Linked DNA regions of Homo sapiens: region 1 is linked to region 2. The links come from fine-mapping of genetic effects on gene expression. A gene starts in region 2. The other region holds a variant in brackets. All regions are shown on one strand. Distances are between the middles of the regions.

Region 1 (5,000 bases), 48 kb before region 2:
ATTACTTAGGTGGATGGTGGAGTGCTGCTGAATTAAAGCCACAGGACAGGCTGATTAATGGGGGCTGGAGGATGCCTGTTGTGTGATTATGCTCATGAAAGATCTGGCAACAGCCTGCCACGTGATGCTGGGAGAAGAGAATTCCAGTCTGACTTGAGAAGCATGACTTGACTGCAGAGATTTGCCATCTAAGACCCCAAAGAGGGTCCCAGCCAGCAAGGGGAGTCTGTGACTTACAAAGAATCATAGAACCTGAGAGCCCAAGCACTCTTAGACACTTAGCTCATACTTTTCATTTATAGCTGAGATGCCTGAGGTTCATGAAGGTTAATTATATTGCCTAAGGCCATACAGTTAAAAAATGGTGAAGCTGAGATTCACGCTCAAGTCTGTTATGTTTAGAAGCCTGTGGTATTTTACTAATCTCAGTTATTGCCTCAGACAAAAGAATTCTGCCATCTGAGAGGAAAATGTAGTAAGCACCTACTGTGTACCATCCCCAGCATATCGCATATTGGGCAATGTAGACACCTTGAGAATATAACTAATGTGAATATGATGCAAAACTGCAAAGGTAAGATCCTGCCCTTGAGAAGTTAGCAGGCTGGGGGCCATATCTTAAATGAAGACCAATCTGTATCCCGAGAGTTTTTTGTTTCAATATACCAGGGCTAGAAAGGAGTCTTTCATCAGAGGCTGTAAGAGATGCCAAAATCAGAGCTGTCTACAGTGAGCCTGTGGGAAAATGACACTAACAAGTTGGGGTCGGGTCAGAGGAAGTCAAACCTGGTACCCAAATCCAGGAGTTGAAACTGGCATTGGAAGCCAGGACGCAGAACCAGAGAGATAAACAGAAAGAGTTGGAGGTGGGGGTCTGGGGTGAAAGGAACAGAGAAAGGTCTGGAGCCATTATAAAGAACTTGCCCAGATAGGTGTGTAGTGTGGATAGACTGACTATATTCATGGAACTAGACAATCCTCTGCCATTGCTCCACCTCATCCCATCAGGCTGCACTCCTTAGGCTTAACTTTGGACCAGGTCAAACTGCAGTTTATTTGGGGCTTTTGAACTCAGTGAGCTCTGGAGTTGATCAATCCCAACCCAGGCTGTACATTGAGATCATCTGGAGTACTTTTGAAAAATATAGGTAACTAGGCCCAACCTCTATCAATTCTAATTGTATATTTCTATGAAATCAGGAATCTGTTTTTCAGACAAGTATCCCAGATGATTCCTCTTCATTGGATCTTGGATCAGATGTTGAGTATGGTGGTCCTACAGAGTATCTCTGGTGGCTTGCCACAGGACTCTGGCATCCTGTCTCAGTTGATACCTTTGTCAATGCCTTGGATATGGACTTAGTAGCCAGTTCCATCATATCTACTCAGAATAAGAACTAGAAGAAGCCAAGGCTAAGTCAGTTAAAGAAACAGGATCCAAAAAGGTCTCAAAAGGCTGGGTGGATACACTGACCAAGTGTATTAGTCCATTCTCATGCTGCTAATAAAGACATACCCAAGACTGGGTGATTTTATAAAAGAAAGAAGTTTAATTGACTCACAGTGCAGCATGGCTGGGGAAGCCTCAGGAAACTCACAATCATGGAAGAAGGGGAAGCAAACACATCCTTCTTCCCATGGCACCAAGAAGAAGTGCCAAGCAAAGGGGGAAACCCCCTTATAAAACCAGCAGAACTCATGAGAACCCACCCATTATCATGAGAACAACATGAGAGTAACCACCCCCATGATTAAATTACCTCCCACCAGATTCCTCCCATGAGACGTGGGGATTTTGGGAACTGCAATTCAAGATGAGATTTGGGCGGGGACACAGCCAAACCATATCACCAAGCATAGCAAAATGAGACTGAACTGGGAAAACTTTAACATCCTACCCTACAGACAAAATACCAAATGAATAAGCACAGTGAGAAATAGACAGCTTAGCGGGAGAACAAAAGAAAAGGCCTTAGAGTTTTAGATTACTCCCCACTCAGTAGGGTAATGAAACCAGGGTACAAATTATAATTAGTAAAATGAAGGAGGAAGTAATCTCACTCTCCTCTCCATAGATTAGGGAAACTCAGAGCTGTGTGCAAAAATGCTTTAAAAAATGAAATAAGAAAATATGATTTTCTTCAATGAACATTATCCAGCCTTTAAAAAGAAGAAAATCCTGCCATATGTGACAATGCGATTGAACCTTGAGGATATACTGCTATATGAAATAAGCCAGTCACAAAAGGATAAAGACTGCCTGATTCCACTTATATTAGATATATGAATAGTCAGATATATAGAATCAAAGGGTATCATGGTTGTTGCCAGGGGCTGGGGGCAAGAGGAAAGGTAGAATTACTAATCAATGACCATAAAGTCTCAATTATACAAGATAAAGTCTGAGAGCAACATGTCCCTATAGTTAATGACACTGTATTGTACTG[T/C]TAAAGTTGGCTAAGAGGGTAGATTTCATGTTAAAGTATTTTTACCATAATAAAATTTAAAAATAGGGAATGATCAGAGAAGAACAAGCATGAGGGTGAAGATGTTCAAAGCCACATCCTTTTGAAAATATTAGAGGCGACTAAGGATATTTACTTGAAGAAAGGAAAAAAGATTTATCTTTAAGAGAGACCAGTAGAACTGGATTAAACCCTCCAGAGAGTTGTCTTGAGGAAGAAGAATAAGGTTTATTTGTGTGGTTGCAAGGGCAAGAACTAGGACCCAAAGGCCAAAAGCTACAGGAAGGCAAGTTTAGGCTTAGCATAAGGTCGATCATTATCACAGTCAGAAGTCAAGCAGAGATGAGGTGTTTCAGCAGGCAGTGAGCTCTCACCATTGCAGGAGACCAAGCTGAGGCTGGCTGTTTGCCTGTGAGGGTACAGGAGGGTTTGAAGGGTAGAAAAGACCAGCGATCTTTTAAGGTGACCTCTAATGCCATGATCCTGAGACTTTAAGAACACAGCAGAATACTTTAAGAACATTTGAGACAACTTTGATAAGTACCTAATGACGTTTTACTGTGTTAGAGCTAGTTGAGAAATAAAGATGACTCAGGAGAGTGCTTGACCTCTATGAGCTGAGAGTCAAGTGTGGGGAAATGGACAAGGAAACAGATAATTATTGTAGTGTGCGAGGAGGACTCTGACACAGGGCAGCAGGGTCAGGGAAGGCATCTGTGGGGGTCAGAAGAAGGAGCCAGAGACAAGTAGAACAAGTAGGGATTAGCCAGACAAAGCTAGGAGTATAATGGGAGATGAGGGAGACCCTGCAGAGGACTTGTTTCCTCAGCAGCAAGATTCTACTCAGAAAAGCCAATGTGACTTAAACTCCAGAGTGGAAAAGAGAGAGATGCAAATCAGTTGAGGTCCCTAAGGAAGTACAGAGGTAGTGGGATGCTGGATTGCTTCCCAGTCTAGTCTGGTCTCAAGGTGAGCTGTTTCTGTGGCTACTTGACAGGCTAGGAGCCCAAAGGATATGAGTCTGGCCACCATGTCTTCTACTTGTTTCCCACATGGTCTTGGTTGTGGCGCAGGTGGGAGAGCCACCCTCACACCTCCATGGAGCTTCTGCATGTCTGTGGCTCTCAGGCAGAACCAGGCAGCTTGATTTCCAAGGTGCCAGAACACTGCAAGTCTGTCATTCCTCAGATTAAAAGCATTAGGTGGAAAACAGCAGGTGTAGTTCATTATCTCTTTGCAAAAAACAAATACCATTCATGTTGCTGTGATTTATGTGCTACATTGCTTTGCTATGTTGGTTGCCCCCAAAGACAGCCTCAGAATGGGAAAGAGAATCTAATAGTCTATTTTCTATCATCACATTGGAAAAGATGATTGGAGTGTGTGGCTGGGCTAGTTGGGAGGTGTTAGCTAACTCACCTGTCCCCTTTGTGTTTCTGTTTATCCTTTAAAACTCACACTTCTTCCAAAACACCTGAGAATAAAATGAGTACCTCAGTGCCTTTGCAGGTGCTAGAAAGTCCCTTTATCTCTTTCATTGAGCTTCTCCCACTGAGCTCCAGACAGCCTTTTCTTAATCCCCAAGGGCCCTATGTCTATGTTCCAGTGTATCCCTGTGCTTCTCTCCAGCATAGTATTTAGCTCACTCTAGTAATTGTCAATTTCTTGGTCTGTTCTTCCTATAAGACTACAAGCTTCTAAGTCATCTCTCGGGTTTGCAAATCTCTGCACAGAGCCTGGCATGTGCCAAGCCCCCCAGGAGGGCTTGGGGATTGGCTGACTTTAGCCTATATAGACAATGCCTCTAAAACGTTCTAGGAGTCATAGGTCTTTCTTTAATTGAAGATGCAAATCACAGTTTTGTAATATCTCATGCTAGATTAATATGCTATATTTTATAAAGCACTTTCAGCTGCATTATCTCATTGGAGACTCTGAACAATATTCTGGGACAAGGAGAATTTACCCATCTTACAGGCTAAGATTGGAAAAAGCAGGAATTGTGGTGGTTAAGAGTGTAACCTCTGGGGTCAGAGTCCTACCATTCACCTTCTCTGGTAGTGACTTGAGTAACTCATTTAATGGCTTTCTGCCTCATACTCCCAATCTTTAAAACGGGAATGATAATTGTTTCTATAAGTGAATTCCTAAAACGTGTCTGGCACAATTAGGTCTTCAATAAATACTAGCTTTTATTGTTAGGTAACTTGCCAAAGTCACCCAGGACTAACAGGCCCAAGAATCAGGTCTTGAAGCAAGATATGCCATACTCAAACACAATGGATGCTCCATTTCATCATGCTACTGTTATTCTGCAGAGGAACATTCATCATGCATGGTGTGTAGCCAATGGTAGTCCTGAAAGGAGCCTTCCAACTCCTCATTCCCTGACTACCTCATTCTACAAAGAAGCTTAGAGAAAGGAAGCTAGGCAGAAGAAGGAGGCAATGTTGACTACAGTCCCATGTCTTCCTCCTACTTGATAAGGGTTCTTCAGAGGCTCTGACTCTTCTCCATAATTTCAGCCATGACAAG
Region 2 (5,000 bases):
AATATGTAATAGAGACCCACAGATTTTGAGGCTGAAGATTATAACTTCCTTCCATCACCATTGTTTTAAAATGTTTTTCTCAAATAACACATTTTTAAGATTTTATAATAAGCAACTGTTAAACATGAACTTATAAAATAAATTTGTATAAAATATGTAATAGAGATCCACTGATTTTTAGGCTGAAGATTATAACTTCCTTCCATCACCATTGTTTTAAAATGTTTTTCTCAACAAATTTTTAAGATTTTATAATAAGCAAATGTTAAACATGAACTTATAAAATAAATGTGTACCATTAAAATGTAAAACTATATAATATGTTTTCAATGTTAGGGTTCATGTGAAATTTTATTTTGCAGGGAAAAAGAGTGCTATTACTTAAAAATAAAGTTTAAAATCTCTGACTGATCAGAAAGATCCATGCCAATTGGCATATTATAAATTTGTTTTGTCTGATTATTGTCAACCATCAAGGGAATGGAAATACCAAAAAATAACAATAACAATCACACAGCAGCACTGGTGACAGCTTTCACTGAATGATTACTAGGTAATAGGTAACAGGTATTGATCTAAGTACTTTCATGCATTTAATTTTTGTTCTTACTTTCCTCCCATTGTACAGGTAAGGAAAATGAAGCTTGGAAAAATTAAATAACTTGCCTGAGATCAGACAGCTAGTGAATGTCAGTGCCAGAATTTGAACCTAATAAAATCATTTCACCATGTAGTTTTTCACTTTCAAAGTCAGTGTCAGACACACTGGCATTAGATACAAAGACCTCATGATTTCCTCCTTCAGCACTTTGTAAAGTATTTAATTGGTTCCATTTTGCCTTGACTTGAAATTTGCCCCTTCACTGGTCTGTCTTGTTTGATAAGTTCATCAAACATCAAGACTCTTTGTTCATTTTCAAAAAGGATTACAATGATAAGCTTTTATAATTAAGAATATCTCGGCGGAGATTTCCTTTACACAGTTCTCTTGCCTTTATCTTCTAATTATTACAGATGAATTTTCTGATTTCAAAATTGTATTTCCTTTAAATACAAGTTACAAATTAACTGCTTTTAAAAATGCTTTCCTCCCTTCTGAACTGTTACTTAAAGGAATTCTCACTTGCTCTAGCATTTAAAAGCACTAATGATTCAAAATTGCATCATCTATCAAGAATTAGAATTAAATAATTCTATTTAAAATCTTTAATGTTTGGGAGACAGGGATTGCTTTAAAGCTATCCCGAAGGTGAAATAAAGGACTGCTTAGGCTCCACAAAATACTTAATATTAAGATACCAAAAAAAAAAAACCCATGAAGCAAGCTTGGAAATCTCAAGAAAATAGAATGGGTAAAACACAATGTACATATGAAACTACATCACCTCCCTCTATTATCCCATAGCAAAAGATAAAGTCATTTTTAGAATCAAATGACCCAGCATCTCTATAGTCCTTTGCCTTCCCCACAGTGATTTTGAACACATTATCTAATTTTATCCTCCCCCAAAACTATGAGACAGCACTCTTATGATGCTCTTTTACAGATAAGAAAGTAGGGGTTAAGTTAACTGTTCAGCACCACTCAGGAGAACTGTCATTTATTAAGTGTCTACTATAAGCTGAGTACATTTTATATTCAGGATCTTATTTTATCTACATTAACTCTTATAGAAGAGGTATTATTATTCTCATTTTACAGCTAGGGAAACTAAGGATCAAACCGATGAGATGATTTACCCTGAATTATTCAGCTTCTAAGCATTAGAGCTGTGATTTACACATAGACCAATTTGACTCCAAGTGCACGGTCTTTTCACTGTCCCATCCTCCTCCACAGGAGTAGTAATAACATGAAAAGAGGTTATTTTCCATTCTAACACAGCCTCTGCTGCAAACATAAAAGTGTCTTAGTTCCCCAGCAGGTGATTCCTACGTGCAAGTTTTGCAGAGACATATGGCCCACTTACTGGTTCACCTTCTCCTGTGCAGTTACCCCAGGCTGACAAGTCATCAAAGACAAGATGAAGAAAACAACAGCAAACATCTCAGCCAGAAGCCACCGCACTATATTACCTTGAAGGAATAAAGCTATCTATTCAGGAAATTGGAGTAAAAGATGTCTACAGGCTGGGACCTGTAAGATCTATCTGATGTTGGAAACTCACCCAGATACACATTGATTTGCACAGAACTCACTTGATTCTCTTTCAAATATGGTTAAATAGTAACCAGGGTATTGATTACCTAAATACTCTAAAAGTGTTCCAGGCACCAAAGGCCACTGCCCTTTAGACCTTTTGAAAAACAATATCCGTGTGGTTAAGGAAAGGAAGATATTTAACTAATACCAGCTTAGCAAAGAGGTCTTATTTTCAAAAGGAGGCAAAAACCAAACCAAGATGCAGTTCTAGAATTCCTGGTCTTTTTCAGTGTCTCTTGGAACTTCTGAGGTCAGATCAATCTATTTTGCAAGACTGAAACAAGGCTAATATTGGTATATCAACTCAGACATAAAGCACTCAGAAAAATGTAGGAAATGCTAACCATTACATGAAGGTTCTACTGTACGTTGCCAAACATCTAAATCCTGAAATATATGTGTAATTCAATGGACTTTCCACTTTTCATACAGACATTGGGCATCATTGAGATCCAGGGTATCTGTTTATTGAGGGGGCCAAATGTCTTAAATAGACATCTCCAGAAGCACTCTCTAGAATTATAATGTCAATAAAACCACACATCAGGACTAATGGTGCCATACCTGCCTAAAATCTCTTACTCTTCAAGACATAAATTAAATTAAATTGAGATGGATGGATAGATAGGTAGGTAAATACATAGATGATGGATAGATACACAGACAATAATTTAATGGCTACTATGTGGCAGGCATTTCATATGTCTTATTTAATTTTCATAGCAGGGATATGAGATGGAAATTATTAATTCCATTTAGATGGAATTAATGAAGATGAAGAAATGGAGGCCCAGAGAAAGTAACTAACTTGCCCAAGGTTGTATAGCTGTCTCAATATCCTTGGGAATATTTAGATTCTCTCATTAGCAGGACTGTCCAGTAGTATCATTACTGATCTCAAAGTTAGGAGAAATTTTAATGAATGACTTGTATGCTTAAGAAAATGTGTTTCTGATTTAAATGCGGAGATTTTTTTAAAGGCACCAAATTGTTATCATCTCCCTTTTCTCAGAGATTTTGGTAAACTTGACAGAAGTAAATGTGGATTCTGGGTCCTGGGAAGTCCCCGGAGCCTGTGATTTCTGTGTCTCTCTTTCTCCTACCTCTTTTCATTTTGACTCCTTGGTCCTCTTGGCCTCAGTTCTACCCTACTTTGAAAACCACACTTTCTGTTTGCTCCACAATATTCCAGCGTGACTAGCATTTCATTTTGCTTTCACTGAAGATATGGAGGACAATGGAGGGTATTCTATCTGGACACCCTGGGGCCAGTTCAGGATGGCACATCTGGAGGCCACCTCTTTCTACCAACTTCCATCCTTTCTCATCCGTAGTCAAAGTTCCTGAAACAGATCCACAGAGCCCCCTGGGAAGTGTAGCTCAAGTTCCCCCACTCCTCCCACAGCTTTTCTCATGAGGAGACAACCTCCGCTACAACAGTGTCCTCCACTGGGGGTGATTTTGCCCTCAGGGGATATTTGGCAATGTTCAGAGATATTTATGTTATCACAACTTGGGGAGTTGTGCTACTGGCACCTAGTGCGTAAAGGCCAGGGATGCTGCCACACATCCTACAGTGCCCAGGACAAAAAATTGTCTGGCCCAAAATATCAAGAGTACCTAGGCTGGGAAACACTGCCCCACAGAAAAACTGGTCTGCCTTCCCCTGATCCCTGAAATAAAAGCAATCGGGTCTTCCTTCTTAAAGCAGCTCCTTCTCTAAATGTCTCTGATGTCTTTTCTCCTTACCCAAGCCCTCAATGGCTTTAGGACTCTTCCTTAACCTTTATCACCTCTCCCACCCCACCCCCAGCACGGTCCCTTATACCCCACCATATTCCTCTGTAATATTTTCCTGCCAAGCTTCTCTCCTTCATCCTCACTGTCTTTGATCCATATCAGGGCCTCATCTCTCTGTAACTCTCATTACCCACTCCTAGTGGGCCTCCACTTCTCACTTCAACCCTCCCTCTCTAGCACTGCTGGATTCATCATCAAGGAAACAATCTCTGACAACATCACTGTCCTACTCAGAAAGCTGCAGTGGCTCCCCCATTATCTCTAAGAGTAAAAGTCCAAATTCCTCCATAAATGAGTCCCAGCCCATTTTTGCAGCCTTATCAACCACAACTCTGCAATGATCCCCCACAGCATAGTCTAGGTTCCCTTCACCTTCCTCATGCTTTGCTGCTGCTGTGGCTTTGCTCACACTGGGCCTTCCATCTGAACTATCTTCATCCGTCATCTCCTCCCTTTTTGCCAAGCATCTTCTCAAATGTCAGATCCATCATGGATCTTTTGCTGGTGGCTCCATCTAAAAGGTGTCTGCTTGGAAGCTCAACCTCATAAATGTGCTAGCAGCACTTATAATTTTTGTTTCATATTCTTCTAGGGGAGCAGGGCGTAACTGGAGAATGAACATGTCTTTAGTGTAAGTTCTGTGTCTGATTCTTATTTATAATCATCCATATCACTTAACAATAAAATCTTTAATAGGAAATTGTTGTTGATTGAGTGAATAAGCAAATAAGCAATTAAAAATAGATTACTATTTCAGAATATGATTAGACATATTTTCTCATTTGATTCTCAAAATAATCTCATGAGATTAAAAATCATTATCCTATCCTGGGCAACATGGTGAAACCCTGTCTCCACAAAAAATACAAAAGTTAGCCAAGCATGGTGGCATACACTTGTAGTCCCAGATACTTGGGAGGCTGAGGTGGGAGGATCACCTGAGCTCGGAGGCAGAGGTGGGAGGATCATCAGATCTTGTGAACCAAGATCACGCCAC

Which allele goes with the higher level. Alleles are on the strand shown, and positions count from the first base shown. SD is a standard deviation of normalised expression in the study named.
For the expression in lung of the gene that starts at base 2,152 in region 2, allele C in region 1 goes with a higher level than allele T (small effect, 0.24 SD a copy in GTEx).

Evidence for each region. PIP is the estimated chance that this variant, and not a neighbour inherited with it, causes the effect.
Region 1: its variant is the best candidate, but not a certain one, in a credible set for the expression of C8A in lung (GTEx, PIP 0.58).

The regions. Positions count from the first base shown.
Region 1 is chr1:56,899,997-56,904,996 of GRCh38, reverse strand. The region is part of intron 7 of C8A (complement C8 alpha chain); the gene reads right to left. Among named protein-coding and RNA genes, the nearest start is that of C8A, 48 kb to the right of the region's middle. The variant T/C (reference allele first, on the strand shown) is at 2,448.
Region 2 is chr1:56,851,949-56,856,948 of GRCh38, reverse strand. C8A (complement C8 alpha chain) reads right to left here and starts at 2,152. Exons shown (of 11, transcript NM_000562.3): 1 at 1,971-2,152. The coding sequence starts at 2,047.